2 separate regions of the Homo sapiens genome follow, and region 2 is linked to region 1. Evidence: fine-mapped expression QTL. A gene starts in region 1. The other region holds a variant in brackets. All regions are shown on one strand. Distances are from middle to middle.

Evidence for each region.
Region 2: its variant is fine-mapped to the expression of MYLK in whole blood (INTERVAL, PIP above 0.99).

The regions. Positions count from the first base shown.
Region 1 is chr3:123,877,127-123,892,728 of GRCh38, forward strand. It overlaps MYLK (myosin light chain kinase), which reads right to left and starts at 7,206. Exons shown (of 34, transcript NM_053025.4): 1 at 7,080-7,206. It also overlaps a transcript of CCDC14 not described here. RefSeq lists a silencer at 7,086-7,245.
Region 2 is chr3:123,684,692-123,700,293 of GRCh38, forward strand. It overlaps MYLK (myosin light chain kinase), which reads right to left. Exons shown (of 34, transcript NM_053025.4): 18 at 15,329-15,602; 19 at 8,044-8,160. MYLK-AS2 (MYLK antisense RNA 2) reads left to right here and starts at 4,953. Exons shown (of 3, transcript NR_046629.1): 1 at 4,953-5,025; 2 at 6,886-7,143; 3 at 7,548-7,716. LOC105369194 (a long non-coding RNA gene) reads left to right here and starts at 8,125. Exons shown (of 3, transcript XR_924417.4): 1 at 8,125-8,231. The variant G/A (reference allele first, on the strand shown) is at 9,519.

The DNA of each region.
Region 1 (15,602 bases):
AGGTGAGGATGAACTCACAGTCACAGTCAGAGACACAGGAAAGTATCAATTGGGCTGAGACAAGAAGTCTGGTTGTAGTGGGATCAAGGAGTGTGGGGGTGGCTGCTATGAGACTGGGCTTGGAGGTCAGATTATAGAGGCCTGTGAATGGCTTAAGGCTGTTCTGTGTGAAACAGGGAGCCACCGGGGGTTCCTGAAGGTGGTGACACAGTCAGACTATGTTTTAGATCAACAAAGCAATCAAGTGTACGATGTATTTGGGCTACAGAGAAGCCACAGTTAATACTCCAAGTGTGAGCTAGTACGGTCTGGTCAGGAAAAAATAGTAATATCAAAGTAAAACCAAGTGTTTCTCTGCCTGGGATAATCAGCAGGCCCACAGGGGAGGAGCTGAGTCCCTAGGTGCCTGCCCAATCACAATAAGAAGCCTGAGAACTCCCTAAAACATACTATTGGGTAACATCAGTAGCAACTGCGTTGATTGTATCATGTATACCATGAGTGACTATTGGAAAGGCAGGAGCTTTTGATAGTAATCAGAGGCAGGTTGCAAGATAAGAACTGTTCCTCCAGGCACGTTCTAAAGCCACCTGCTGCTTCCTCATGAACATACTCGTTTCCACAAGATCAGCAACCAAGTGATTACGAAAATGATCACCCTGTTGACACTAATAGGAAAATACCAAATGGAAATTTAACTTGGACAATGGGGAAGTTTAGGAATACATCTGCTTGAGTCATGTTCTGTGAATGGACTCAGTACTTGGCTGGAAAGATGCATAAAGCTCAGGAGAAAAGTTAGAATGAAGTATACCTAGCCCTACAGAAGACATAACTGAAGAAGTGAGGTGAATGAGTGGAAAGTGCCTTCTCATGGAGTGGCACACAGCAAATCCCTTAGAATCTTCTCTGAGCACCTCCATTTACCCCATTAGCCAGTCCTTCCACCCAGATGTACTGAGCACCTGTGGTGTGTCAGGCACCAGGCTATGAGTAAGGATACAAGATGAACCACAGCTGGTGACCTCCAGGAGCACAGTGCCTAGCAGGACACTACCCTTACGACCACAGCACAAGCACAGGTTGCCAAGCACGTGTTCATCTGCCTACAGCCTCATCAGATGAGTAGAGAAGGGCTTCTCTGTCCATTTAAAGGTGCACAATCTGAGACCTGGAGATACCACGTCACATAGCAGAAGACAGTGCTGAAGCTAGCCCCCAAACCCGGGGCATCTTCCTGGTGTTTCCCACAGCCTCAGATGACATTCCATGTAGTCTGACCCCAGGAAAGGGGAACAGCACTCGGTATCCAGGGGCCCTGAAGCAGACAGATGGCAGTGATCACAGGCCAGATAAAGGTAGGACATTCACTCCTGCTCCCCATTGGACCCTCAGACTAAAGAGGACAGCCTTAAAGGACTCTAGAGAAGCAGGTGGGCAGATGAGGGAACCAATGTGTATCCATTCTTCCTGCCTATGTCAGGCCGTTCACCTTCCTATGCCATCACCATCCTCCACCAGGATAGGTAGTGATGAGAACTCTGGCTGATGCTGGCTCTACTACTTGGATTTTTTTTTTAGACGAAGTCTTGCTCTTGTTGCCTAGGCTGGAGTGCAGTGGTATGATCTCAGCTCACTGCAACCTCTGCTCCTGGGTTCAAGTGATTCTCTTGCCCCAGCCTCCCGAGTAGCTGGGATTACAGGAGGCTGCCATCACACCTGGATAATTTTGGGATTTTTAGTAGAGATGGGGTTTCACCACGTTGGTCAGGCTGGTCCTGAACCCTGACCTCAGGTGATCCACCCGCCTTGGCCTCCCAAAGTGCTGGGATTACAAGCGTGAACCACGGTGCCCAGCCACCACTTGGCATCTTAGGCCAGAGTTTCCTCTTCAGTCCAATGCAAAGGTCAAGTGGACCTGACCCTTAGTCCTAACACCCTGTGATTCCAGAACTAGGAAGTGAGCTACAATATATGAGGCATGAAAAGAGAACACAAAGCCCCAGAAACCCAAAAGTCTTCTACGGGCCTCTGGGCTTTCACTCTGGCCACCCAATTGCCTCTTAATATTTTTGATCGAGTATAAAATAAAACAATTTCAGATGTTTCAGAAATATTATTGGCAGCAGAGGGAAAACAAGGCCAGAATGAAAACCACCCCCAAAATAAACCTCAGGACAAGCACACCTGCATGTTTGGGAGTGCGCTGCAAGGTCAAAGGTGTTGTGCCAGGGCCCAGCAAGGAAGGAGCTAACAGCCTTCAGACACCGGAGCCAAATGTTCCTGCCTTCCTCTCTCCTGGCAAATGCTTACCCTCCCTTCCTCCTCTCCATTTTTGAGGCCTTCCTGCATCACTCTAGCCCCTGAATTTCTTGTCATCCTTTAATTCTGTTAATGAAACTTGGAAATTGCATGTTGTCCCTGTTTTCTAATTACCTATGTGTTAGCTCTCTTGCTACCCACCCAGAGTCTCTTAGCATAGACACATTACCTTTGTTTTTTGTTGTTGTTGTTTGTTTGTTTCTTGAGACGGGGTCTCACACTGTCGCCTGGGCTGGAGTGCAGTGGCGCCATCTTGGCTCACTGCAAGCTCCGCCTCCTGGGTTCATGCCATTCTCCTGCCTCAGCCTCCCGAGTTGCTGGGACTACAGCCGAGTAGCTGGGACTACAGACGCCCGCCACCACACCTGGCTAATTTTTTGTATTTTTAGTAGAGACGGGGTTTCACCGCGTTAGCCAGGATGGTCTCAATCTCCTCACCTTGTGATCCACCTGCCTTGGCCTCCCAAAGTGCTGGGATTACAGGCGTGAGCCACCGTGCCTGGCCCACATTTACCTTTGTTTTATAAGCCTCTACAGAGCTCAATAGAAAGTAGACATCATTAGTGTCTGCTGGTTGATTTACAAGTCATTATATAGACCTGGAGAACACTGCCCGGTATATATAATAAAAGCTATTCTTTGTTTTGTGCCTATTTATATTCCTATATTCATTTAATTTTTATAACCGCCCTCATTGTCAGATGACAAAACTCAAGTCAGCTCACAGAGGTTAAAACCCATGCCCAAGAACACCCAGCCAGTAAGTGAATGGGATGGAACTGAACCCAAGTTTAACACCAAAGATCACATTCTGCCTGGCTGCCTCCTCCTGCCAGAAACCTGAATGAGACCTACTATACATCAGAAATCCTCATCTCTGAAAACAAGAAAGGTAAACAGCATCCTCAACTATAAAAGCCCCAAGTTGCAGGTGTTCGGTTCCCCCAAAGATTATGAGAAATAACCCATAAGGTCCTGGATTAACAAATTAGCATCAGATCTGAGCGCCCAGAGCCAAGGGAAAAAAAATCAAGAAGCAGGTCTGAAAGAAAAGGAAATCCTCTCCTCATCCCTTTTCTTTTGTCTCCAAAGGGGCTTTCTGTCTCCAGAGGGCTCTGCACTGAAGACCCAGGGAAGGAGAGGAGCAGAGGGTGGAAGGGGGGCAAGGAAGTACCAACAGAGGGGGGATGGGGACAACGTGGGAAATCTAAGAAGCTGGATCTACACAAAAATTTCCACAGCTCCCTAGTGGGGTGCCCATTCACCCTCAGACACTGAAGTACAGTGAGCAGGAGGGCAGGGAAAAGAAGGTGGTGGGAGCATCTGGAAACACAGCCTTACCTTCCAGCCCATGAGGCAGCAACTGTTGCTGGCTCTCCTCCTGCCCCAGCTGACTGGGCTGGCTGTCAGTAAATTTCATGGGGGCTGCAGCCCTCACACACCAGGTGCATGCAACAAGGAGGAGGGATGCACCTGTTGGCCCGCAGTGCAAATACGGAGGTCCACCCACCTTGAGTTTGTGAGGGGAATGCATTTGCTCAACCTGTTGGCATCAAACGAATGGAAAAGTGTGCAGCCAAAACTCAAGGAAGAATAAAGAGAATCCATCTGCAGAATGGTGCAGGTGGGAGAGGGGCGTGGCTTGTATGGGCACTGCTTCCCCGCACAACCATGTCTGCCTGCTTGTAAGGTAGGAGGCTGGGGGAGCACAGGGAAGAGATAGAAGTCACATGGCATAGGAGCTCATCACAGTGACATCGTTCTGTCCCACTCTGGCTCACTGCTGGACGGTTCCTTGATTCTGAGCACTCAGGCCACCCAATAGACCCTGCTCAGGCCTAAGCATCCACATGGACATTTTCCATGCAAATGGCCCTGCCTCATGTCCTCTGCATGCACCCTCTGCTGGCCAAGTTGAGCGAGGACATTGTCTTTTGTTGGGAAAGGATACTTTTTAAGTGTTGTTTCTAAATTTTACTACATTTGCTGAAAAGACAGGACAGGAAGCTTTTAAGAATGAACAATCTCCCAGCCTGTGTGGGTTGGTTTGAGCTGTGAGAGGTGCAGCTGGGCTTCCAAGTAGGCTTATATTTCCAGACTCCCAAGTATTGTTCTCAGAAAGATACTAAATAAGACACCCCATACTCATGGGACACTGTACCCATGTCCCCAAGCAAGGCTGCATTCTGAAACCCCCACCCCACCTTATGAACTTCCTAAAAGACAGACAAGCCAACTAGTTGTGTTTCAAACTCTAGGCTCATCTTATATTTTGAGGATAAAAGCAAGGGGTCATTCTCAAAGACACTGAGTATATGGTGACCCCAGCGCATTCACAATCTATGCCTCTGAGACCAGCAAAGATCTCCCTAGCCAGAGACCCAGAACCTTTCCCCACCCTTGGAACTCAAAGGCCTCTCCCCTCTGCACCATCTGGGTCACCTCCTTCTCTGACAAGCCTTCTCAGCAGATTACCCCCGCCACCTGCCAGCCAGGAGCCCCTCCTCTGCAGTGACTGTAGCTGTCTGTCTACCATTTTCAGGCAGCAGGTGGGGCCACCTGGCCTTACCAGTTAGCCTAGGAATGTTCCAAGGCCTAGTCTGCTCTGCATATGTTTTCTAAGATCTGGCCCCTGGGGAAGCAGCCCCTGATGAAGGGGTGAGCAAACCTCACACAAACAGCAACTACTCTGGCTGGGTGCAGTGGCTCATGCCTGTAACCCAGCACTTTGGGAGGCAGAGGTGGGCGATCACTTGAGCCCATTAGACTAGTATGGACAACATGGTAGGACCCCATCTCTACAAAAAATCCAAAAAACTAGCCAGGTGTGGTGGCACACACCTGTAGTCCCTGCTACTCAGGAGGCTGAGGTGGAGGATTCCTTGAGCCTGGTAGGTCAAGGTTGCAGTGAGCTGAGATCACGCCACTGTACTCCAGCCTGGGCAACAGAGCCAGACCCTGTCTCAAAATAAAAAATAAAAATAAAAATAAGACAAGGAAACATCTACAATGCTGCAGCTACCCTCCTCCTCAGCTAGCCAGTTATTACACAAAAGAAACTGAACATGGGAGATAAACCAGCATAAATGCTTCCCCACTGTGGGGTGGTTCTCCAAGCTCATGCTTAGCTGCAAATGAGGTCCAGCATCCTTTGTATCATCAGTGAACAATGAGACAGACCTGCACATCTTGGCAAAAAAAGCTCTTGTGCATGTCCCCAGAGTACCCGCTACCCAATCCAGCATCCAGAGTCCAACCACTCCGGACCCAGGACCAACTGCTCAGGTTCCTCCCAGACCCAAGGCTCCTGGCCCACTGAGAGTGGGAGAAAAAGGGGTAACCTCACTCTGGGCAGGAAGGAAAATTCCATGCTGCCCTAGAGCACTGTGGTGCCAGCAGCATCATCCTCCACAGTCCCACAGTGTGCAGGCGGGGAAGAGACTAAGAGAATCACGGAAGAGAGAAGGAGGTCAAGAATTTAAGAGAAAAGAAAACAGTTCTATTAGAACCCTAAATGCCTTGTAGGAACCTAGTAAAGTCACCAGATGCACCTACACTTCTCCCAGAGACTTGCATTGTTGATTCCTGATTCTTTGAAGTGTGGGCGGGGTTCCCCAAATGGTCCTCCTAAGCCCACCATCTGGAAATAATTTATTGATAAGTGCATTTTGACAAAAAGTATTCCATTCAGGTGGAGAAGAACACAGCCTCTCTTGGAAGGGGGATGCAGCTCCAGGGCAGGCTCTCAAAGGCTGTGGGGTGGGCGGGTCATTGCATATACTCTGGTCTTTGCACTTGGGGAGAGGAGGGATGGTAAAAACCAACGGCCTGAGGTCTGGCATCATGCCCACTGCCCAGGTGTTTCCCTACACCCACCCAGCTCCCTGAATCACAACAGCTAATTTTACTCCCTCTAGACTCTAGTAGAGCTGGGTCTTCTCCTTCTGGCTACGAAATAGAAAGTGCCCCGCACCCCAACACACACACCCCAATCTAAAAAAAATATATATCCTTGAAACCATTTCCCCATCAGCCCATCTTCACATCTGCAATGCCACTCCTAGAAATTCAGTCCTTTGGGTCTTGAAGGGTTTTAGTTCCATAAGTTCCAGGGAGGGGTCTACCTCAACCATTGACAACTCACATCTCCTGAGAAGTTTATCCAAAACTTTCCAACTGCAATCATCGGCGAACAAGGTCCCTCAACAATGGGACCCCAGTTAACGCGAAGGAGGCAGAGCGAGGTAAGGAGCTTAAATGAGGAGTATGGAGTAGGAACAAGTCTGCAAAGCCCGCGCCCCAGCTTCGCCTGGGATGGCCAGGTCTGGCACTCGCGGGCCGCCTTCCCCGCCCTACCTTCCCGGAATCACATTTGGGCTGGAAGGACCTTCACGTGGCACCCCCTTCCCAGAGGCCGTCACCGAGTCCTCTAGCGAGGGTCTGGGAGCTGGGAGAAGGGTCCGCTTCTCCTCCGCCCCTCAAATCAAAGGCACCCCCTTCGGATGATTCCTAGAAAGGCAATCGCATCAGTGTCCCCAAGCACTTCATCTCCCCAAAAGAAAACTCGTGCAGCCTGGCGTCACTGGGGTCGTCTCCTTACGCCCCTGACTCCTCGCCGCACCCCGGGGCCCCTCTCCATTAGGGGAGTCGGGAGGCACAGACGGTGGGGGTCCCAGCCCCCACCCAGAACTCCCACCCTCGGAGCCTTGACTTCCAGGGCCCGCGCCTGGACAAAAGCATGGGGCGGGCTCACTCACCCGCGCGGCGAAGGCGGCCCGGGAGCCGGGGCACCGGCGCTCGGCGGGGCGCCCCGGCCGCAGGCGCACAGCGCGGGCTCCGAGCTCGCTCAGCGCCCTGCTGCCGACCGGGCGGCGCGGGGAGCCCGCGAGGCGCGTCCGGGACTGGGCAGGGCGGGGCGGGGCGGGGCGGGGCGGGGGTGAGCGAACCGGCGAGAGAGAGAGCAAGTGGGAGAGCGGAGAGCGGACGCGCGCTGAGGAGAGCGAGTGAGAGCGCGGCGCTACGGGGTCAGGACTCAAACCACCCGCTCCAGCCCCCATGCACTGATTTGCATGACATTTGCATAGCGCTCGGGGAGTGGACCTGCTGCCCTTCCCGCCACGCCCACCCGCCTTCTGCCTCGGAGTCCGGAGCGGAGAATCCGCAGCCAAACCTAGCGCCAGACCCGGGCCCCCCTCGCACTTATCCTGCACCGCCCCAGTTAACTCCTCGCAGGCGGCGGTCAGCGGGCTGGTACTGTCTTGGTGCGTGTCTTAGTCCTACACTGGGAGACCTAGGCCTTAGGTCGGGGTCTGATGCTAGCTTCGTGAGCGTGCATGAGACACTGGCTGCCTCTGGGCCTCAGTTTTCTAATCTGTAAAATGAAGATGTCAGCGGAACCATGGGGCTAAAGTTTTAGTGCTGGAAGGTTGTCTATGTAGTTTTTTTCAGACATCCTCCAGTGGTGCAACTCAGCCCCATGGTTCCTCTGACATCCTCCCTTTGTGTGTGTTAAGAATCTCTCATTGGTTTGGAAGATACCTACAAAGTTCTTTAAATTAAAAAAGGGGAAAGGGGAGGGGGGGGAGGGGAGGGGGAGGAGGTGTTTCTGGTTTTGGCTTGCTTTATATTTAGTTTGCACCCAATATGAAATATTTTATAGCTTCTGATCTCTTCACTTGGACCTTCTTTTGTTTTTTTTAAAAAAACTGTTTACTGCAGGTTAAGGAGTGTTTTTAAAAATTTTTTAATTGTAAAATAAAACATAAATACAGAAAACCACAAAAAACAAATATATAGATATATAGACTAGTGAATTATTATAAAGGGAACATCCTTGTAATCACCACCTGGATCAAGAAATAGAACTCTGCCAGCCACCCCAGGAGCCTCTCCATGTGCCCTACCTCAATGACAACCCCCTTTCTCCCTCCTCCCAAAAGTAACCACTAACCTGACTTTCATGTAGTCACTTCTGCTGCTTTTGTTTTTCTTGGTATCTTCCAAGGGTGCACCTTACCCCTCCCCCCACTCTTTTTTTTTTTAATTTGATTTGCCTTTTCAGTCTTTTCCTTACAATTATTTGTTAAATAACTTAAGCCCTTGATCTGTGAGGTTTTCCAGAGTCTGGGGGTTGCACATTCATGAGGCAATTCAGCATGTTTCTCTGTCCTCTGTATTGACAGCAAGTTGGCAGCTGATCCAGGGTCTTCCTCAGACTGAAGTTTGATGTCTTTTGTAAGATTATAGATGGTTGTGTGTTCTTTTCTTCAAGAGGTACATGATCATGATGTCTGGTGTTTGCTCTTTTTTGAGGTTAACAGCCGTCGATGCTCAATTCCTAGATTCATTAATTAATTGAAGTTTGCAAAATCATGGTATTCTAATAATTTTGTTTTCATTTATTAGTTCATAAGTGGATAAGGAGATGCTTCCTCTCATCTACTATTTGATTACCCTGAGATAGGAAAGGCACGATGAATACCTGCTTTTTTTTAAAAAAATTACCCAGTTTTCAAGTTAAGGAATTGATTCTCTGTCATTCTTAGATTTCTTTAATATCATTATAAATTCATGAATTTAAATATATTTGATAGGTTTCCATCTACGATATTAGAGCTCAAATTGTCCCATCTTTGGCCAGTAGGAGCTTCTTCAATATGGCTCCTGGCTCCTTTTGATAAGATTCTAGTAGTCTTTTTTTTTTTCTCTCTCTCTCTCTCTCACTAGTGTGCAAAGAGCTTCAAAGACCCTAGAAGTCTTTGATAGCTTCCTTGCTATCTGATATGACAAGATGTTCCAGGCACATCTGTACATTTGCTGCCTCAAACCTGGAATCAGCCATTTCTCCAAGAAGCTCTAGTTTTTTTGTTTTTTCTTTCCTTCCTTCCTTCTCTCTCTCTTTTTCTTTCTTTTTTTCTTTCTTTCTTTCCTTCTTTCCTTCTTTCCTTCTTTCTTTCTTTCTTTTCTTTCAGATGGAGTCTCACTCTGTCACCAGGCTAGAGTGCAGTGGCACGATCTCGGCTCACTGCAACCTCCACATCCCTGGTTCAAGGGATTCTCCTGCCTCAGCCTCCTGAATAGGTGGGATTATAGGCACGTGCCACCACACCCAGCTAATTTTTGTATTTTTAGTAGAGACGGGGTTTCATCATGTTGGCCAGGATAGTCTCAATCTCTTGACCTCGTGATCTGCCCACCTCGGCCTCCCAAAGTGCTGGGATTACAGGCATGAGCCACCCCGCCTGGCCAGAAGCTCTAGTTTCTTTTGTTGAAATTTTAAGATAACAATATGAGCACTAGGAGTATTCATTGTTACTAGGTTGGTAACTGTTTCTAGGCCTTTTCAATAGACAGAGCTACTAAAGAATACTTCATTTTTTTATATTCTAGAGAAATATTATTCTTCATAATATTTTCATCAGTTTATATTATTTCCAATTTAATTTCAGGACTGTAGTTTTTACTTAACATATATTACATTAGGACCTCTTTTCTTTCATGTAGAGAATTCTGGTTCTCAAGGACAAAAGGGAGGATGAAATTAGAATATCCCAATTTACTAATTTGCTTTAGTTTGCATTAAACATATAATAATAATCTCAGAATAACAATATTAATACTACCATCATCAGTTTTGATTCTTGAAAACAGTTTTTTTTGCATATGCTATCCATCTTTTATAGTTATACTCTATCTAAATTATCAGCTTCTATAGCCATCTATACCATAATCTTCCTATTTAACCCTAATTTAGTCTTAATTTTACAGTTCTACAATTCTAATCCTAATTAAAGTTCAAATATATATTTAATGCTTACCATTAGTTCCTTATGTTTATGTATCTTTAGTCATTTTGGTTGTCTGAAAGCTTGTCCTCTACTAGATTCCTTAGGAAGGGCTCATGGAAAGAATATGCTCTGAGTTCTTGCATGTTGCTTACAGTTTGTTCATGCCATTTTACTTGAAGGTCAATTTTGTTGGATTCAAACTACTTGGTGTCTTGGTCCAGCTGGGTTGCTATAACAACAACAACAAAAAAAAAAAACACAAAATAAGTGGCTTATAAACAAGAAACATTATTTCTTATAGTTCTGGGGGCTGGGAAGTCCAAGATCAAGGCTCCAACAGATTCAGTATCTGTTGAGAGCCCTCTTTCTGGTTTGTAGACGGCACCTTCTCACTTTGCCTAGATGCCCAAATAACTTTATCTTTTTCTTTCAAATCCAGTAATTTTATTAGAATGTTTGTTGGTCATTCTAGTTTGAAAGTAAACAGTGTGTATTTCTTTCAAAATGTGGTTTCAAATACATATATTTTGTTAATTTCAGGAAAATTTTCTTCAATTAAAGTCTTAAATATTTGTTCTGTTTTGGATTGCTTTAGACTGCTTCTCTGGAGACTTCTATTATCTGCATATTGAACCTTTTTTGTCTATCTTCAACATTTGTCACTTTCCCTTAAATCTTTTTAATTTCTTTCTTCATTTGTTTTTAAGTTTATAAATTTCCCTCCTTTTTACCTTATTTTCTTTTAAGTTTTTATTAGTTATATTTATGTGTTCTTGTGTTCCTTATAGGTCAATCTTTATTTCTCAAATGCTTTTTAAAATGTTTAATTCCAAAAAAAAATAAAAAATAAAACGTTTAATTCTTCTGTGAGTTCTGTTCTAATTTCTGAGTTTCTCTAATTCTGATGTATGTTGTTCTTTCATGTTTCATGTCACTCAGTGTGTATTAGCTTTTCTAGGACATTATAGCTTTAATTTTTTTGAGAATATCTTTCTGGAGGTTATTATGATCTTTATTCACTTTGTTGTAGTAGCTATATGAGAGTTGACCTTAGTATTTTTTTTGTTGATCATTTTTACATGAATTTTGTTTTCTTGAACTTTTAAAAGGAGATTTGGTCCAGACAGTTTTTCAAACTTCACAAAGCTTTCCCGTTTGTTGTTTCTGAGTAGTGTCAAAAAATATATATGGTGGCTGGACTTCTAAGATTTCCTGGCTCTGTTTCCCTCACTCACTTTTATCTGGCTCTTCTTTTTCTTTCAACTTGCATTAGTCAGTTTTCACACTGCTATAAAGAGCTACCTGAAACTGGGTAATTTATGAAGAAAAGAGATTTAATTGACTGACAGTTCCTCAGGCTTAACAGGAAGGATGACTAGGGAGCCTCAGGAAACTTACAATCATAGCAGAAGGTGAAGGGGAACCAAGTGCTTTCTTCATATAGTGGCAGGAGAAAGAGAGAATGCAGGGGGAAGTGCCATACACTTTTAAACCATCAGATCTTGTGAGAACTCACTTATTATCATGAGAACAGCAAGGGGGAAATCCACCCCCATGATCCATGATTTAATCACTTCTCACCAGGCCCCTCCTCCAATTCAACATGAGATTTGGGTGGGGACACAAATCCAAATCATATAATTCCACCCCAACCCCTCTCAAATTTCATGTCCTGCTCACATTGCAAAATATAATTATCCCTTCTCAATAGTCTCCCAATCTTAACTCATTTCAACATTAACTCAAAAATCCACAGTCTAAAGTCTCATCTGAGACAAATAAATCCCTTCTGCCTATGAACCTGTAAAATCAAAAACAACTTAGTTACTTCCAAGATGCAAGGGGGATATAGGCATTGGGTAAATGCTACCATTCCAAAAGGGAGAAATTGCAGCCAGGTGCAGTGGCTCACACCTGAAATCCCAACAATTTGGGAGGCCAAGGCAGGTGGATTACTTGAGGTCAGGAGTTCAAGACCAGCCTGGGCAACATGGTGAAACCCTGTCTCTACTAAAAATATTTTTAAAATTAGCCAAGTGTGGTGGCACGTGCCTGTAATCCCAGCTACTTGGAGGCTGAGGCAGGAGGATTGCTTGCACTGAGGAGGTAGAGGCTGCAGTGAGCCAAGATCGTGATACTGCACTCCTGTCTGGGCAACAGAGGGAGACACAATCTCAAATAAAAAAAAGGGAGAAATTGACCAAAACAAAGGGGCTACAGGCCTCATGCAAATCCAAAACTCAGCAGGGAAGTCATTAAATCTTAAAGCTCTAAAATAATCTCTTTTGAATTCATGTCTCACATCCAGGGCATGCTGATGCAAGGATGCTCTTCCAAGTCCTTGGGCAGCTCCACCCCAGTGGGTCTGCAGGGTATAGCCCCTGTGGCTACTTTCACAGGCTGGCATTGAGTGCCTGCAGCTTTTCCAGGTGCATGGTGCAAACTGTTGGTGGATCTACCATTCTGGGGTCTGAAGGATGGTGGCCTGCTTCTCACAGCTCCACTAGGCAGTGCCACAGTGGGGACTCTGTGTGGGGGCTCCAACTCCACATTTCCCCTCCACACAAACCTAGTGGAGGTTCTCCATAAGGCCTCTGCCCCTGCAGCAGACTTCTGCCTGGACACCCAGGCATTTCCATACATCCTCTGAAATCTAGGTGGAGGTTCATGAATTAGTCCATTTTCAAGCTGTTGATAAAGATATACGTGAGACTGGGAAGAAAAAGAAGTTTAATGGACTTACAATTTCATATGGCTGGGGAGGCCTCACAATCATGGTGGAAGTCAAGGCAGAGCAAGTCACATCTTACATGAATGGCAGCAGGCAGAGGGAGGGCTTGTGCAGAGAAACTCCCATTTTTAAAACCATCAGATCTTGTGAGACCCATTCACTATCATGAGAACAGCACAGGAAGGACCCATCCCCATGACTCAATCATCTCCCACCAGGTCCCTCCCACAACACATGGGAATTATGGGAGCTACAAGATGAGATTTGGGTGGGGACACAGAGCCAAACCATATTATTCTGCCCCGGCATCTCCCAAATTTCATGTCCTCACATTTCAAAACCAATCATGCCTTCCCAATAGCCCGCCAAAATCTTAAATCATTTCAGCATTAACTCAAAAGTCCACAGTCCAAAGTCTCATCTGAGACAAGGCAAGTCCCTTCCACCTATAAACCTGTAAAATCAAAAGCAAGTTAGTTACTTCCTAGATACAATGAAAGTACAGGCATTGGGTAAATATGGCCATTCTAAATGGGAGAATTTGGCCAAAATAAAGGGACTATAGGCCCCATGCAAGTCCGAAATCCAGCAGGGCAGTCAAATCTTAAAGCTCCAAAATGACCTCCTTTGACTCCATGTCTCACAACCAGGTCACACTGATGTGAGAGGTGGGTTCTCATGGTCTTGGGCAGCTCTGCCCCTGTGGCTTTGCAGGATGTAGCCTCCCTCTTGGCTGCTTTCATGGGCTGGCATTGAGTGTCTGTGGTTTTCCAGGCGAATGGTGCAAGCTGTCAGTGGATCTACCATTCTGGGGTCTGGAGGACAGTGGCCCTCTTCTCACAGCTCCACTAGGCAGTACCCTAGTAGGGACTCTGTGTCGGGGCTCTGACCTCACATTTCCCTCCCACACTGCCCTAGCAGAGGTTCTCCATGACTTCCCTGCCCCTGTAGCAAACTTCCACCTGGGCATCCAGGCATTTCCATACTTCCTCTGAAATCTAAGTGGAGGTTTCCAAACCTAAATTTTTTACTTCTGTGTACCTGCAGGCTCAACACCATGTGGAAGCTGCCAAGGCTTGGGGCTTGCACCCTCTGAAGCCACAGCCCAAGCTCTATATTGGCCCCTTTTAGCCAGCTGGAACAGCTGGGACACAGGGCACCTAATCCCCAGGCTGCACACAGCACAGGGATCCTGGGCCTGGTCCATGAAACCACGTTTTCCTCCTAGGCCTCCTGGCCTGTGATGGGAGGGGCTGCCACAAAGGTCTCTGACATGGCCTGGAGACATTTTCCCCATTGTCATGGGGATTAACATTTGGCTCCTGTTACTTATGCAAATTTCTGCAGCAGGCTTGAATTTCTCCTCAGAAAATGGGATTTTCTCTTCTATTGCATTATCAGGCTGCAAATTTTCTGAACTTTTATGCTCTGCCTCCCTTATAAAACTGAATGCCTTTAACAGCACCTAAGTCACCTCTTGAATGCTTTGCTGTTTAGAAATTTCTTCTGCCAGATACCCTAAATCATCTATCTCAAGTTCAAAGTTCCACAAATCTCTAGGGCAGTGGTAAAATGCTGTCAGTCTCTTTGCTAAAACATAACAAGAGTCACATTTGCTCCAGTTCCCAACAAGTTCCTCATCTCCATCTGAGACCACCTCAGCCCGGATTTCATTGTCCATGTTATTATCAGCATTTTTGTCAAAGCCATTCAACAAGTTTCTAGGGAGTTCCAAACTTTCCCACATTTTCCTGTCTTCTTCTGAGCCCTCCAAACTGTTCCAACCTCTGCCTGTTACCCAGTTCCAAAGTTGCTTCCACATTTTCAGGTATCTTTTCAGCAGCACCCCACTCTGCTGTTACCAATTTACTGTATTAGTCCATTTTCACAATGCTAATATGCTAATAAAGACATACCCAAGACTGGGAAGAAAGAGAGGTTTAATGGACTTACAGTTACTCATGGCTGGGGAGGCCTCACAATCATGATGGAAGGCAAGGAGGAGCAAGTCACATCTTACATGGATGGCCGCAGGCAAAGAGAGAGCTTGTGCAGGGAAACTCCCATTTTTAAAACCATCAGGTCTCGTGAGACCCACTAACTATCTTGAGAAAAGCACAGGAAAGACCCGCCCCCATGATTCAATCATCTCCCACTGGGTCCCTCCCACAACACATGAGAATTATGGAAGCTATAAGATGAGATTTGGGTGAGGACACAGAGCCAAACCATATCAGTTCCCAAAAACTCAACTCTTGCCTTCTGTGCACCCCCAGGCCCAACACAACATGGAAGCTGCCAAGGCTTGTGGGTTGCACCCTCTGAAGCAATTGTCTGAGCTGTATCTTGGCCCCTTTTAGTCACAGCTGAAGCTGGAGCAGCTGGGACTCAGGGTGCCATGTCCTGAGGCTGCACAGAGCAGCCAGGCCCTAGGCCTGGCCCATGAAACATTTTTCCCTCCTAGGCCTCCAGGCCTGTGATAGGAGGGGCTACAGTGAAGGTCTCTGAACTGCCCTGGAGACATTTTCTCCATTGTCTTCAATATTAATATTTGGCTCCACTCATGCAAATTTCTGCAGCCAGCTTGACTTTCTGTCCAGAAAATGGGTTTTTCTTTACTACCGTATGGTCAGGCTGCAAATTTTCTAAACTTTCACAAGAACAGCACAGGGGAAATCCACCCCCATGATCCAATCACCTTCCACCAGCCCCCTCCTCCAATTCGACATGAGATTTGGGTGGGGACACAAATTCAAACCATT
Region 2 (15,602 bases), 190 kb before region 1:
GCCTGACTAATTTTTCGTATTTTCAGTAGAGATGGGGTTTCGCCATGTTGGCCAGGCTGGTCTTGAATTCCTGGCCTCAGGTGATCTGCCTGCGTCAGCCTCCCAAAGTACTGGGATTACTGGCGTGAGCCACGGCACCCGGCCCTTCTTAAGGAAGAGGAGTACAGGGCAGACTATGTATGCAGTTCTGCACTCCTTGGCTTCAGCACTCATTCTCCTGGTGAGTCTTGGAGCATAGAGGAGGGAGAAGAAGAAGGATCAGGTTTGCTTTTTTAACTGATGAGTAAGCTGAGGCACAAGAAAGCAAAGTATGAGAGGCCCAGTTTTCCTGGGCTCCTGAAAGAAGGGCAGCAGGTACTGAGACTCCTTTCGTCCTCATGGGGTTGTGTTGGGCTTTACTTCCAAGCATCACCACAGTAGAGGCCAAGAGAGTACAGCTCTAGCTTTGGCTTTGTCATCAGCAACCTTGGGAACTTGGGCAAATAATTTAAACTGTCCCATCTCTGTTTCCACATCTGTACAAGGGAATCACTTATTTTCTCTACCTCATGGTGTTTTGACGCCCAAAGGAGAGAACACATGCAACGGTGTTTTGGAAAGCAGGAAATGATCATTTATCAGCCCAGCGTGGTGGCTCACGCCTGTAATCCCAGGACTTTGGGAGGCCAAGGCAGTTGGATCACTTGGACCCAGAAGTTCAAGACCAGCGTGGGCAACATGGTGAAACCCCGTCTCTACAAAATTTACAAAAATTAGCCAGGCACTGTGGCATGTGCTTGTAGTCCCAGCTGCTTTGGAGGCTGAGGTGGGAGGATCACCTGAGCCCACAGAGCTTGAGGCTGCAATGATCGTGCCGCTGCAGTGATCATGCCACTTAACTCCAGCATGGATGACAGAGTGAGACCCTGTCTCCAAAAAATGAAAAAAAAAAAAAAAAAAAGAAAATGAAAATGATCACTTATGAATTAATTCCTCTTGATAGCCACATTCCCTTACCTCCTTCTGAATCAGCTTTAAAATTTTCCACCTTCAGAAAACACTCCCTGCCCTGCCCCATCTGCCTCTGCCTCCGTCCTCGGCCCTAGGGTGCTGGGTTTTCACTGGACGTGTCAGTACACTACCCTGTAATGTGCTTTGAGTCTTATTTTTAGAAGTTTCTGCAGCACTTTATCTTTCCATCTGGCCATGAGGAAAGGGGCTGAAGTCCCCCTTTCAAACTAGGCACACCCCAGACTCGGAGCCCCAGGGGGTGGCCGCGCTCCACTTGAAGTGTCAGCACGGTGGGGCTGTGCATGCACCACGGGGCCCTGCCAGGGATGCGGAGCCAGCAGACCTCCATGCGAACTGCAGCAAGGAGTGGGCTCGAAGGGCCATGTGCCTAATCAAAACCAGCTTTGTGCTCACATGGCTGCCCAGGGGATAAAAATAATAGTAATATAAGTTTAAGAGCAGCTTGTATTTTCTATTTTAATCATTTTGTGATGAAATTAAACTCCATTTCTAGATCTAGGCCCCCAAGGCTGAAGTCCTTTGCTTGTGTCCCCAAAGAAGTGTGGGGGAGGAAGATGGAGGTGTGAGGAAGTGGGGGGCCTCTACATTGAGAGGAAAATGTGTCCTTATATAGACAATGCCTCACCCCTCCCACTCCTGGGCTCTGGACTCAAGCTCTCTGGGCAGCGTTTTTTTTTTTTTAATCTCCCCCAAGAGGCTGGTTCCCTGAACTCTGACCCCACGCAGGGGGCATGAGGTCTTGGGAAGCTTCTGGGAGGGGTCCAGCTTCTAGGGGCCCCCAGTGGGGCAGGGCAGAGGGGCTGGGCTCCAGCCTCTCCCTGGGTTGGCTCATCCCTCCTTGCTGGCCTCTCTCTCTGACTGAGTGCAAGCAGTGTGCTAGCGTAGTAAGGAAGAGAGATCAGGATGCTTGCGCTTTCTGGCTCTGCTGCTTAGGAGTTGTGAGTCCCTGGGCAAGTTCCTGAACTTTTCTGAGTCTGAGCTTCCTCACAAGGAAAACCGAAATAACATCACCTCAATAGAAGAGTGAGGGAGGTGTGGCCAAGTCGTAAGGTGATGGCTGACATTTACTGGGTATTGACTCCATGTATGCACGGTGCTAAGTACTTTGTATGCTCAGATCAGGTTGAACTACACCATTCGCCAGTATTGAAGTGTTTTTGACCTACAAAAACAGCAATTTTATTTAGTTTCACATAATACCCGTTAGTTGTCTGTGATGATTTAAAGAATAAATGTGGGCCAGGCGCGGTAGCTCACGCCTGTAATCCCAGCACTTTGGGAGGCTGAGGCGGGTGGATCACCTGAGGTCAGGAGTTTGAGACCAGACTGGCCAACATGGTGAAACCCCTTCTCTACTAAAAATACAAAAATTAGCTGGGCGTGTTGGCGGGTGCCTGTAACCTCAGCTACTTGGGAGGCTGAGGCAGCAGAATGGCTTGAATCCAGGAGACAGAGGTTGCAGTGAGCCGAGATCATGCCACTGCACTCCAGCCTGGGCAAAAAGAGTGAAACTCTGTCTCAAAATAAATAAATAAATAAATGTGGGGGTGGGAGCAGACTTAGTAATATGGCAGGGCTGAGGCCAAGAAAGGAGGGGTGGATCAAAATCAGCTCAGCAATAATCAGAAGTGCCCAGGGGCCAAGATAACAGTGGATCACAGTGGTTAGGCACCAAGGCTTGGGTTTAACTTCCCACTCTGCTAGTTAGGGTGACCTTGAGCAGGTGACTCAGTCTCTGTTTGCCTGAGATGAGGCTATTGTTACTATCACTCCCCTGAAGCCCTCTTGCAAGGTCACCAATGACCTCAATGTTGGCAAACCCAATAGCCAGTGCTCAGGCTCATCTTTATTTGGCAGCAGCACCTGACCCTTCCTTCCTTCCTTTCTTCCTTCCTTCCTTCCTTCCTACCTTCATTCCTTCCTTCCTTTCCTTCCTTCCCTCCTTCCTTCCTTCCCTTTCTTCCTTTTCTTCCTTTCTTCTTTTTTTTTGACAGGGTCTCCCTCTGTCCCACAGGCTGGAGTACCGTGGTACAATCTTGGCTCACTGTAGCCTCAACCTCCCATGCTCAAGCTGTCCTCCTGGCTCATCCTCCTGAGTAGCTGGGACTACAGGCATGCCCCACAGCATCCAGGCAACTTTTGTATTTTTTGTAGAGACAGGGTTTCACCATGTAGCCCAGGCTGATATTGAACTCCTGGCTCAAGCAATTCACCTGCTTCTCAAAGTGTTGGTATTACAGGTGTGAGCCACCACACCTGGCCTGGCACACTAATCTTGATCATTCCTTCCTTTTTGAAGTTCTTAGCATTTGGTTTCTGGGACACCCCCATCTCCTGGGTTTCTTCCCATCTCACTGGAGTACTTCCTTCTTAGTCTTCTTCGCAGGCCCCTGTCCTGCCCCTGCCTCTCTCTCTCTCCCTCTTCTTATAGCCACCTCTGTACTCTCCAGGGACCTCATTCAACCCCAGGGCAGTGAATGGCCTCTGTGTGTGGATGGCTCCCTGTATCCCACCTCCAACTCTGACCTCCCCCTCAACTCCAGGTTCACCTAAACACCTGCCTATGTGACAGGACCGCTTGAGAGGTCAAATAGCAATCTTAAACTTCACATGCACTAAACTCTTGATCGTGCCCCCCAGCCCCACCATTGGTCTTCACTCCCCCATGAAAACTGAGTCATCTTTAACTTCTCTCTCTCTCCATACCCAGCTCACCAGCAACTCATATCAGCTCTACAGCCAAAGAGGTTATGAATCTGATCACTTCCTGTCCCTATTGTGGCAACCCCCCATTGTGCTCCCTGCTTTCCCTCTGACTCATCCTGGGTCTGGTCATCACATGGACATGAGTGATCCTTCATAAATGTCCAGTGTTGGCCCATAACACTTAGAATAAAATCTCATTTTTTTTGTCCTAGCCAACACTGCCTGGATCTGGTCCACGGTCCTCCTCAACCTCACTTCCTACCATCCTGCCCCTTGCTCATGGCTCCACCACCCTGGCCTCCTGCCTCCTGAAACGCCTTAAGCACAGTGTCCTCAGCTCAGGGCTATGCTCTTGTTGTCACCTTGTCCCTCTTCCTTCCCTGCTTCCTTCAGTCTCTGTTCAAATGTTCCTTCCTCAGAGGGGCCTCAGTGACCACCCCCTCCAAAAATGGTATTCTCTCCCCCATTACCCTGCTTTGCTTTCTTCATAGCTGGTGACATTACCTGAGGATATGACACAGCTGTTCACCTGCATTACTGCCTCTTTCCCACTAGAAAAGTCCCAAAAGCTGGAACTTTTCCTACTTCATTTACTGTTTTAAAACCAGCTCCTATGGCAGTGCCTGGCACAGAGTGGGCACTCAGATATTAGTTGAATGACTGAGTGATGGCATGAGTACCCACTGGAGTGTCCCTTCCCATCACAATCATGCATGACCCTCTGTGGTCACAAAGCCCTGGTCTCACTGGTACCAAAAGCTGGATGCCCTGGCCAGGGTGGCTGGGGACAGGAGGCCTGAGTTGAGAATGACTGGATGAGCCAGTGAGGGGCTAAGGTGTTTTTTGAGTCCTCTCATGGGATTCTGGCCTAGGAAGGACTTAGTTTCCTCACTGCTCATCTGGGTTGGAATGAGAGGAAAGGGGTTACTGAGTCCCACGTGCAGAAGGACCTCCCCACAGGGAGGACTGTTACTCAGGGAGGTCTGGATCACTCTGGGAGCGGGCCCCACCATGGTAATTCACTGCCCGGGGAGGCTGTGTCAGGCTGTGGAAAGGAACAGGTTTCAGAGCCAGACCACTGAGTCCTGCCAGGATATTTCATGTTGTAATTCACTGTGCAGGGTGGAGCCCCAACACCAGATCTACACCTACTGTCTGTGGGGCCTGGAAGGCAGCTGACCCTTGGTGAGCCTCAGTTTGCTCACTGAGAAAGACACCCTGCCCAACTGTTGCATAGACTGAAAATGCAAAGTGCACAAGAGTCTCTGGCCAGGACAGGCATTGAAGGTCAGCTTGTTCTCCTCCTGGGTGAGTTTTCGGGCAAGTCCACGTTTACTCTAGGTTTTAGCTCCCTTCTATGTGGCACAAGTTAACCCTTGTCTTCTGCTGAGTTCAGAAGGAAGGGTGATATGACCATAATCAAGCAAGTTCATAAACACCCCTTTTCTTAGGAAAAAGACCCAAACACATGATTAAAATAGCCAGCTGTGCTGTGTTATAAAGGTTACATCCCTTATCTTTATGATATGAGGGAATCAGTAGTGTGGGTAATGCTATTTTAGCCCCATTTGCCTCATTTTTATGAGATTTTGAAAGATATGTTGGCCTCAGATGTATGGTCTCGATGGTGTTTGGCACAGGATGAGTGAATGATAGCGACTTTCAGGGGCCAGGCCAGCCCTGCTGAGTGGCTGGGGAAGCCAGTCTGAAGTCAGCACCAGCTGTAGTCCCATCGCCTAGTGGAGATGGACCTCATTGCCCCATAAGAGGGATGAAGGCCTGGTTCTATGCAGAGGTTGGGTGGGCAGTTGCAGCTGGAGACAGGCTGGAAGAGCCCACACAATGGCTGGGCTTGAAAATTCAGTCATTGTTGCTGCTTACGGCAAGTAGTTCTTCAACGTATTCTGATTCATGACTCCTTTTGAGAATTTGACTAAAAACTATGGACCCCTCTCTTCAGAAAGATGCTCCAACCCACATAATGCAACATTTTGCCTGTAATTTCAGGGGAGGCACAAACCCACTGGGATCCCCAAGTCAAGTATGATGCCTTGGGGAGTAGGGAGAGCTGAGGGGATGAGGGGACAGAATGAGGGCAGGAGATGTAGCCTAGCCAGTGGGGTGGAGCACCAGACGATAGAAAGGCGACAGGGGAGCTGTCAAAGTGACAACAGTCCTTTACTACTTTCCTAGAGAGGCTCTTGATGAAAAAATAAAGCTAAATGTGGGCAAACAGGATGCTAATATATCTGTAAGTATAGCAACAGGGAAAGAAAAGCAGGGGGAAGAGGCCACCCTTATCCTTTCTGTCAACAAAACCAAACCCAATGGACTGAGAGTCAGTCCTGTTATCTCAGCTGGGCTCCCTCCTATCACTTTTCTAGCTCTTCTTCCAAGACCCAGCTCCCAATTTGCAGCTGGAGGCCTAACTCTGCATTTGAAGGAATTAGGGATAAATAATGATGGTCATCAAGATTAGTGGAGAGGACAAGGGAATCTGCCAGCAGACTCTGGGCAAACAAAGCCTTTTAAGTTGCAGAATGAATTCCCCAAACCTTAAAAAAAAAATCCCCAAGTGTATTCAGTAGGGGAAAAGGAAATTTCATCTTGAAAACAAATCTAGAAAAGGTGCTGACATTTTACAGATAGGGAGAATGAATTGCTCTCCTGCCTTCAGCTAGCCATGTAAACAGGACCTAAAGAGGCTCCGAAAGCCGATAACCTCCTTCACTAGCTCGGGAACCAGTGTGAGTCCCAAACGAGCAGAGGGGTGTTAGACGTGGGCTTCAAGGATCATGTTTTCAGAAACGCTATACTTTACAGTGCAGCACCTGTATAGAAAGAAGCAGGACTGTGATCTGGGTGGGTGACAGCCTGGGTGAGGAGAGACTCCCACACAGGAGTCATCAGCCACAGCATCCACTGTGCAGAACCTCAAAATGTGTCCCATGCCCCCTCTGAATTGAGCATAAACTTGGACACATCAAGTCCGCTTCCTTAGACTCAGAGCCCCTATAGCACATATACGCACGATCTCCAAGGAGAAGTACACAGTATTAGATGAGTTCAGCTTACCTTTCGGCTATTAACAATTAATTCGTGCTGCCATTGTGTTTTTATAAAAAAGACTTTCTTTTCCACCTCTCTCCCATTCATCATGTTCCATAGAGCTCAGCTCTGTGATCAGGAAACCAATTGTAAAGTCCAGAATGAGGACACGGGCTCTACATGGTGTGGAATGGCAGTGAGACGGGCTAGGACTTCAGAACTCAACTGATCACACACAGGAGGGAGAAGAACAACCAAGCTGGGCTTCAAGATGCCTTATTTGGACACTAGTTTTTGATGTGTCTCTGATGGTTATTAACCAGACATTTCAAGGGCAAGAAACTATTTCCCCAAAACTACCTTTTGAGACATTTCCAGGTAAGTGCCAAATACAAAGAAATGATCCTGGGTTGTGAGTCCTGGGATGGGGTTCTGGCCCCAGCTTGGCCCTAAATGGGCCAGAGAGCCCCCCTCCAAAATGCATTTCCTCTCTGGATGCCCTCAGTTTCTTATCTGTAAAATGAGGGTGTTCATCTAAATCATCACGAGGTTCATCCTACTTCTCAGGTTCCAATTCTATACTCCCCAGGAAGGAGAGAAAAAAGAGTCATGAATGCACTTCCTGCATTTCCTTAGGACAAAGCCCAGTTCCTCGCAGCTTGGCACTGCCTCTTCCTAACACAGAAACTCCGCTAAGACCTGGCAGGCCTGCTTTCTCCCCGATGTGTCCTCCCACCTCCCTCTGCAGTATTATTATTACTACTACCATTTTGTTTTGGCAGAGGCTGCCCTGTCCTCTCTGTCCAGAGACTCAGCCCCGACTCACCTCCTCTAGGAAGTCTCCCACACGGACCTCGCTCTGCTCCCTCCTCCTCACGGCTGACCCTGCTGGGTCGTCCTGCCAGCTCGGACACTTGTTTGTTGTGGCTTTTGTAAAATACTCTGTAGTCATTTTCCTGTGGGTGTGTCTTTTCTACTGCCCAGTGCCCCAGCTTCCCAGCTCAGAAGGTTCTGGGTGTGGGGATCAGGACTGGGAGGGGGACAGGACAGCCAGGGGAGGGGTGAAGCCATGTAGGTGATCAAGTAGAGCTGCCACTTTCCTTCCTGTCTCTTTTTCTTTTGGCAAAAGATATTCATTCATCCAAAATGAATGCCTTTGGGTAGGGAGGGCAGTGTTGGAGGCAGTTCTGTCTGACAGGCAAGGTATGGTAAGGAAGGGAGGGGCTGAGAAATGGGACCCCTGTGTATGGGTGGCGGCGATGGGTGGGCACGACCTACCATCCACGGTGACTTGGCAGGAGCACTCCGCCTGGCCAGCGTCATTCTTGGCTACACACTTGTATAAGCCTCTGTCCTCAGGCAGTGCCTTCTCGATGGAGACGGAGCAGAGTGAGCCTGGGGAGGAAGAATTGTGGAGTGAACCAGGTGTGGTCGTAGTACCTGCCCTGGCATCTGGAGCGCAGCAGGTGAGTGTTACTCGCACGGGCAGCCTCTGGGAGCCCAGAAGCCAGAGGCCTTGTGGGAACCAATCCCCCACTCCTCACCAAAGCCAGGGAACTTTCTGCTTATAACCCATGTCCAAAATAACTGATCCCTAAATACGTTCCTTCCTGATACCTCCTCCCCCACTCCAAAGAGTCCTCTTGTGGGGACATAATAGAAAGCTGCAAAAGAAGGGAGAGAAATAGCCTCTGCCTTTGGAGACCATCCAATACAATACAAGGAGATGCACACAGGCCCTGCCCCCTGGACGTCACCAAGAGAGAAAAGGAGTCCGACACAGGGTTACAGACCTGTGTTAGGAACAGTGACAGGTGAGGAGGTCCCACTTTGTTTACAGCAGTGATGCTGTGACTGCATTCTGGAAAAGGGAGCTTTGAAGCTTTGAGCAAAGAAGTGGGTGGAGGAGGCTAGGAGCCCTTGTCCAGGAGGGGCACCGGCCTGTGGGAAGATCTGTTGGGAGGTGGTGACTACACCCAGGAGCTGACTTTTTAGGAAAGGTGTCTGAGCTGGAGAACCACGGCCAATGAGGGGGACTGGACCTGCAGAGGGGCCCTCTGGGGCTGCCTCCCTTCGGAGTTGGGTCTTCTGGTTGCCCCAGAGAGAAGTGGGGATGGCCTTTCTTCTCCATGGACTCTCCCCTGGGCCTGCCTTCACTCCCAGCACCATCTTCTGGCCTGGTTTGGGGAAGGAGGTGTCAGCTAGGCACACACAGGAATCTAGGGTCTCGTCCTGGCCCCTGCCAGCTCTCTCATCCCAGAACTGGTTACTTCTCCTCTGGGCCACCCCTTGGGGAGGTTCCCTCAGGGTGTGGAAAGAGGCCTGCTGGGCCAGGCAGAAGGGCAGCAGTTCCTTATTCTTGCTTTCAGATGCACAAACAAGTAAATAGCAGGGCATCCTGCTCAAAGCTGCCCCTGTTGTCAGGGAAGCAACCGTCACACAGGAGGACAGAGCCAGGGCCACATGCACTTTGCTGCCTGGAGCTCCCATCTCATGTCCCACAAGCCACTGGCATTGGGAGGGAAGAGCTGGGTGCATTCTGAGTGGACACCAACTACTGTCCCTGCCCCCCATTACACAAATGCACAGCCTTGACCAGCAAATACAAGGAGATTAGAAAGAGTAAGGATATCAGTTCTGCCCAGAAAACCTCACTAAGGCTGGAAGAGGAAGGAAGGGTGTAATATTCCCCTTTACTCCTTGCCACCAGGGTACTGTTTTAAACAGAGAAACCTTCATCCTATAAACCACCT[G/A]GGGCAAGAGGGCTGATCTGCACCCCACTCCCCACTTCCTATACCCTTATACAGACCCCAAACCTCGGGAAGGCTTCACTCTGTTCTCTTCCCTTTGTAGTTAGGAGTCAGAATTTGTAGAAACTGTAATGGAGAGGATTTAGGCTGGAATTTTAGGAAGTCTGTCATAAGAGTAAGAATCGTGAGGCACAGGAGTGGGGAATGAGGATAACCATGTCCTGGAGAGAGAACTTTCCATTCATCTGGGTGGGCGGGAGGATGCCAAGATGACCTCTGGCCCCAACTAGAGGGGCTCAGAGGCTTAGCAGAGACCAATCCCATCTGGAAATTTTCCCTCAAGTCAGGGTGGGGCTAAGGCTTTGGGAACAGATATCCCACCCCCAACGCACATCCTGTTCAAATCCTTGATTTTCTTTCAGTTTCAGTCCCTCAGCTGCCTTGAGTCTTAAGTCAAAATGATACAAGCTGCAAAGACAGTACACAGAGAGTAGAGGGGCATGTGGACCCGGCCCCTGCCTCCTCTCCCAGGGCAAGGCATGGGGCAGGCAGCTTTTCCAACCTGCCCAGAGCCTGGACCCCTGGCCATGTGCATGGGCTTGGGGAGGCCCCCCTAGCAGGCTTGCAGGCTTGGCTACCCCAGATGAAGAATCTGGTATTTCCTGTGGGACAGTTCATTCTTGACCTCTAGAAGAAAAGCTGTTTCCCAGAGGTTTTTTTTTGAGAAGCCTCAGCCTGGTGGGGAATTCTGAGAGGGAGATGAGGGGGATGGGAGAGGTCAGCATCACTGCAGAGCTCCGCCTGGGAGAGCCCCTCAGGGCTGTGGTGGAGTAAGCGCTCCTGGGTCTGAAGCTCCCCCAGCTCTCTCCTTTTCTGAGTTGGGGGCAGAGGGGAGGAAGGGGATGTGGATGGAGGGAGGGAGCTTCCTGGAGGCTCTGCTATAGGGCTGCCTCAGTCAGCCTACCCAGCCCACCTGGCAAGCCCAGACAGTAAGACTCATCTCCAGGTCACCCCTGCAGGCATGGTGTCCTCCTTGTTCCCCCTAATCCCCCAGGCCTAGGCGGACCTCTTCTGTGCTCCCAACTCTGAGCTCACCCATGTCAAAGCACGGCTCACAAGGCCATTGCTGACCTGCATGCCTGTCTCCCACACCAGCTCTCAGAGGGCAGTGACCCTGTCTAACACCACTGTTTTTCCTAAGCCTGGAATGCAGTCACAGTAAAACATATTTGTCATTCTGAGAAGGATGAAGGCATATTTCTGTAGCAGGTGATCTGGTAGGATCTATGTAAGAAAAGGTCACAAACAGTTAAATATAACTTACTATTGAAAAAGATAATATATAGTTTCTGAAAAAAGAAAATTCAGAGTTCTTTGAGTGGATTATGCACACAACAAAGGGCATTAGAATAATGCCTTGCTCATAGTAGATGCTGCATAAATCCATTTTTCGTAGGATGAACTTACATGGGTTTTTAAAAAGCCTTTGCAAAATTCTACCCTGAAGGCAATTAAAAATGAATTACCTATTCACAACAGCAACAAAAATGAATCCTCATTGTTAGACTCGGAAAAGTGTTTTGCCAGGAGGAGGAGCCTGGCCTGGAGACAGGAAACAAAGCATAAAGATAAAGCTCTTCTCAGGCCACCACAGAGCTCCCCTCAGCTCACGGGACCATCGGCCTCCCACCACCCCTCAGCAGAGGCAGGTCCCGGAAGGGCTAGGAAAAGACTTGGGGGCAGAGGGCAGGCCCAGTTGGTGGTAACTCTGAATCCCATCAGCCCTGCAGCTCTAGGGGTACAGGAAGAGGAAGGACACCTCCACGTGTCTGTGTCCTGCCACAAATCAACTAGTGGTGAACTCTAGCCCATGGCTGTCAAACCTCTTCTGCTTTCCTCAGCACGAAAGGGGGTGAACTAAATGGGGTGATGTAATCCTGTTTGGGTGGGGGTCTGTGGGCTATGAGCCCTATCTAAGCTACAGACATCAGAGAAGTCCCCTGAAACCTATAAACAGCACGTCCACTAGCAGTTGGTGCACGCAGATACACAGGTTGATGGGGAGGGGACAGTGCAAGAGTCTCTCGTGGCCAAAGGTGGGTGACAACAGGAAGGCATCCTGGAGGAAGTGAATCTTGTTTGTAGCAGAGCTGACAGGGTGGGGATCAGTGCAGTGGAGCAAAAAGGGCTCCAAGTCAGGAAGCCGGGGGCAGGGCCAGTGCTGAGCTGAGTGTGAAGGATGCAGGACGGGAGGCCAGCGGAGCCATTCCCTCACCTTCCCCTAGAAGCCTCCTCCAACCACCGGCTTCCTTATTCCCACTGACACGACCACTGAGACCCCAGCCACTCAGGCACCCACACTTAGTGGTCTTCCATTCCTTCATCTTCTTTACCTACCCCCACCCCCATCCTGCCCTTCCAAGCCAGGCAACAGGTGCCATTACTTCTATCCTTGCTTCTTGAACTGGTCATTCCCTGACTGTGGTTGTGGCTACTACGCTAGTCTAGGCCTCACCATCTTCCTCTCGACCTCTTCAGTAGGCTCTGTATTTGTCTTTTGGGCACAGAGTCCACCAAAACCCCTAAACTGAGCTTCATGTACAGTGTTCTTCATCCCAAAATCTTGCATGATTCCCTACTGCCTTTAGACTGGAATTCCTTGGCAGAATATAGGATGAAACTGGGGCCATGTCATCCTCTCCAGCCCAGAACAAGCTGTTAGCAGGACGCCTCTGCTGCTGCGGGGCCCCCGCCTGGAAGCCCGTCCCCTCTGGCCTGTCTTCGGGGCTTAGATCAAAGTCCAGCACTCAGCTCCCTCTCTTCCCACTTCCAGCAGCTCCTCCCGACACACTCATAGCACTTGTCAGCACTTGGCTGTAACAATTTTATCACTGTGAGTGTGTCTTCTCCTTCCACATCTATTGAGAAAAGACTCCCTCCACCTCTCAGAATGCCCTACTGCCTGAGGAGGGACCTGCTTAAATGGTGACTGATAGATGAAGCCTTAAGATAAGTTTTTTCCTTAACAAAACACTGGGCTCTTGAAGTCTTGGCGAGTGAAGGGACAGAAGGTGGGGCCGATTTTTTGAGACAACGCACTCTCCTGTACTGAAGCAAGACAGGCCCATTGCAAGGTCTGCTTCCACCACTGCAGGGAAAATACCAGAAACCTGGCAAGGCTAGGGGCACCATCAGTGTTTCAACCTTTGGACAACTCTTAACAAAATCGAGGAGTAAATAGTCATTAGTGTTTTCTGTTGATAGACAAATTCTCAGCTGCCACCAGTACCCTGATAAAATAATAGGAATTAACTAAGAGGTCATATAGCACGGTGGTCTAGGCACGGGAACTCAGCCACCTGAGTTCAAATCCCAGCTCTGTTACCCCCAGCACCTTGCATTTGGCAAGGTACTTAACTTCTCTGTTAGGTGGACAGTACAGTCATTGTTGGGAGGATTAAATGGGTGAAAAGTGTAAGAGGCCTAAGATAGTGTCTAACACATAGTGTTCAACATATGTCAGCTATTCTTTAAACACAATTTAAAAATATTTAGAAGATGTCTTACAGTTTGATTTGGGGCTCTCTCTGGAATCCCTTTCCACCTCTCCTGGTCTCTCTCTCCCCTTCGTGTGCAGCCTTCCTTGGATCATTTCTTCTGCTGCTGCTCTGGATCTGAACTGTTCCCTCTGGGACGGTTTCCATGGGAAGGGAGGCTGGAGTGGCTAGGATCTCTAGGCTCTTTACCACTAAGGGACCAGCAGGGAAAACATACTGCAGGCACTCAGGGCACGAGAAGACAGTGGCTAATGGCTCAGAAGAGTTTCTGAGACCAGGCCTGGGGTCTGCCTTACATCGCTTAGTTGAGTGAATTGTTTGTAAGTGGCTGTTGATGGCTCTGGGTTTAAACCCCATGCAAGCCCAAGAACAGCTGCCCCCAACTGACTTAACCTCAGTTTCCCTGAGGCTGGAGCAGCCACAGACCTCCCAACGCCAAACCTGCTGAGACCCTGAAGCCCATGGGCAGCGCCAAGCCTGATGAGAACCTGAAATCCACTAGCAAAGAAGAACTCAAGAAAGATATTAAGAATGATGCGAACTGCAAGAGAGGCCATGCAGGGACCACAGATAATGAAAAGAGATCAGAGAGCCAGGGGACAGCCCCAACCTTGTCCTGAGGATGGTGGATGCCACCCTGCATCCTGCCTGGAGAGATCACCGTAGGGTGACCTGGGAAATGTTCCCAGTCAGGGTTTCCAATCAGTTTTACCAAGGACTTTCCAAGTGGGAGAGCCCCACAGGGGCGGCAGGACAGGTTGTGGCGTCTGCTCCTCTGAAGTCTCACCCCAGCCCAATAATCCCCCATGCCTCAGGGGAGGGGGGCTGAGCCAGCAGAGGTGGGGGATGGAGGAGACGACTTCTGGAGGACCCTGCCAATCTGAGGACATCCACATGGAAAAGTTACTGCGTCAACACATTAGCAGAAAATAACATGTTTCTCTCTGCCAGCCAGTGTCCCCTTCACTCTTTCAGCGCTGAGATTCAATATACTCAGCTGCTCCAGGTGTGCTGTCCCAGATGTAGAGGGAAGACAGACCCTTACCGGGGGCTGAGAGGGATTCTGTGATCTTCAAATGCTCCATTCTGCTTGTGAGGGGAAGGCAGGCACGATAAAAGGTGAGGGAGGGAGTGGGGAGGGTGCTGCCAGGGGCCAGGGAGGGGAGCAGCCCACAGGAAGAGCACTCTGACACCTCAGCTGACTCAGATTTGACAGGACCTGTCCACTCCGGCTTCTTCTGTGGCTGCCCTCTGCCCCTCAAGGGTGAAATGTCACTTCCTGGGAGCTTCTTTGTACCCTACCCTGTCTGGAGCCACCAGCATCAGCTCAGGCAGGACTCTGTTCTGTGCTGGCAACCTATCCCTCCGCTGGCTGCCAGAATGGGGTGTGGAGGTCGGCCGGCCTCAGAGCTCCCACCCAGACTTGGGATTTACAAAAGCACTTCAAACCAAATTGAGGGTCCAGAGAAAATACTCCTGTGTCACCCCCATCTCTTCTCCAAGTATAAACTGGCTCCTCTGAAAACTCCAGACCCCAAAAGTCCACACAGATGGAAGGATTTGGGGCCCCCCTCCTCTCCCCACCATCCAAGAATGTGAAATACCAGCAAACAAAAGTCTCATCCAAATTAGGAAGCGAGTAGCTCTGTCTGCCCGTGAGTGTGTGCTGTAGGGGCTGTTTTGGGATTTTGGGTTTCCCGACAGATCCCTTCAAACCCACAGTGCTATCAAGACTGAAGTTATTGTTGACCCCAACTCAGAGCTCCGTGCCATCTGGTCACTGCACACCGTTCCCCAAACCTAAGATGCTTCTCTAAACAGCTCTTTACTCAGAGCTTCTCCCTGGCTCCAGCCTCTGTGTCCCCCACCTCCAAGCCTGTAGACAGAGCCCTCTCCATGCCGGAGCTTGGAATTAACTCAGGCTCAGGTCTCCTCTGGGGAGCCACAGGTGGCGGTGCCATGAGAGGGCTCTGCCAGATGGGTGCCGAGATGTGGGCATGTGCCACAAGGACCAGGATCCCAGCCCTTAGCCCCAGCCTTGGTGCATGTACCCAAGGCCCCTGAGCCGGGACCTATCCTTGAGTTAGCAGGAAACAGGGACGCGGCCCTCCTACCCAGCAGGCCCTCCTACCTGCTAAACCAGGTTAGCAGCCTACCTATGGGCTGCTAACAGGGGTCAGCGAGACCAACGCTCCATGAGCTAGGAGTGGCCCTGGTACAGAGGCCCCTTCTTCCCCAACCCCCATGCTCATTTACCTTCCTGGGAGAGGATGATGAACTTGGTGGTCTTGAGGGTCTTTCCGTTCAGCGTCCAGATGATGGTGGCTGGGGGGTCAGAAGACACCTGGCACTGGAGCAGCAGCTTCTTGCCCTCTGCCACATGAACATCTTGCAGCTTCTGCTTGAAGGCTGGGGCTGTCCCCTGGCTCTCTGATCTCTTTTCATTATCTGTGGTCCCTGCATGGCCTCTCTTGCAGTTCACATCATTCTTAACGTCTTTCTTGAGTTCTTCTTTGCTAGCGGATTTCAG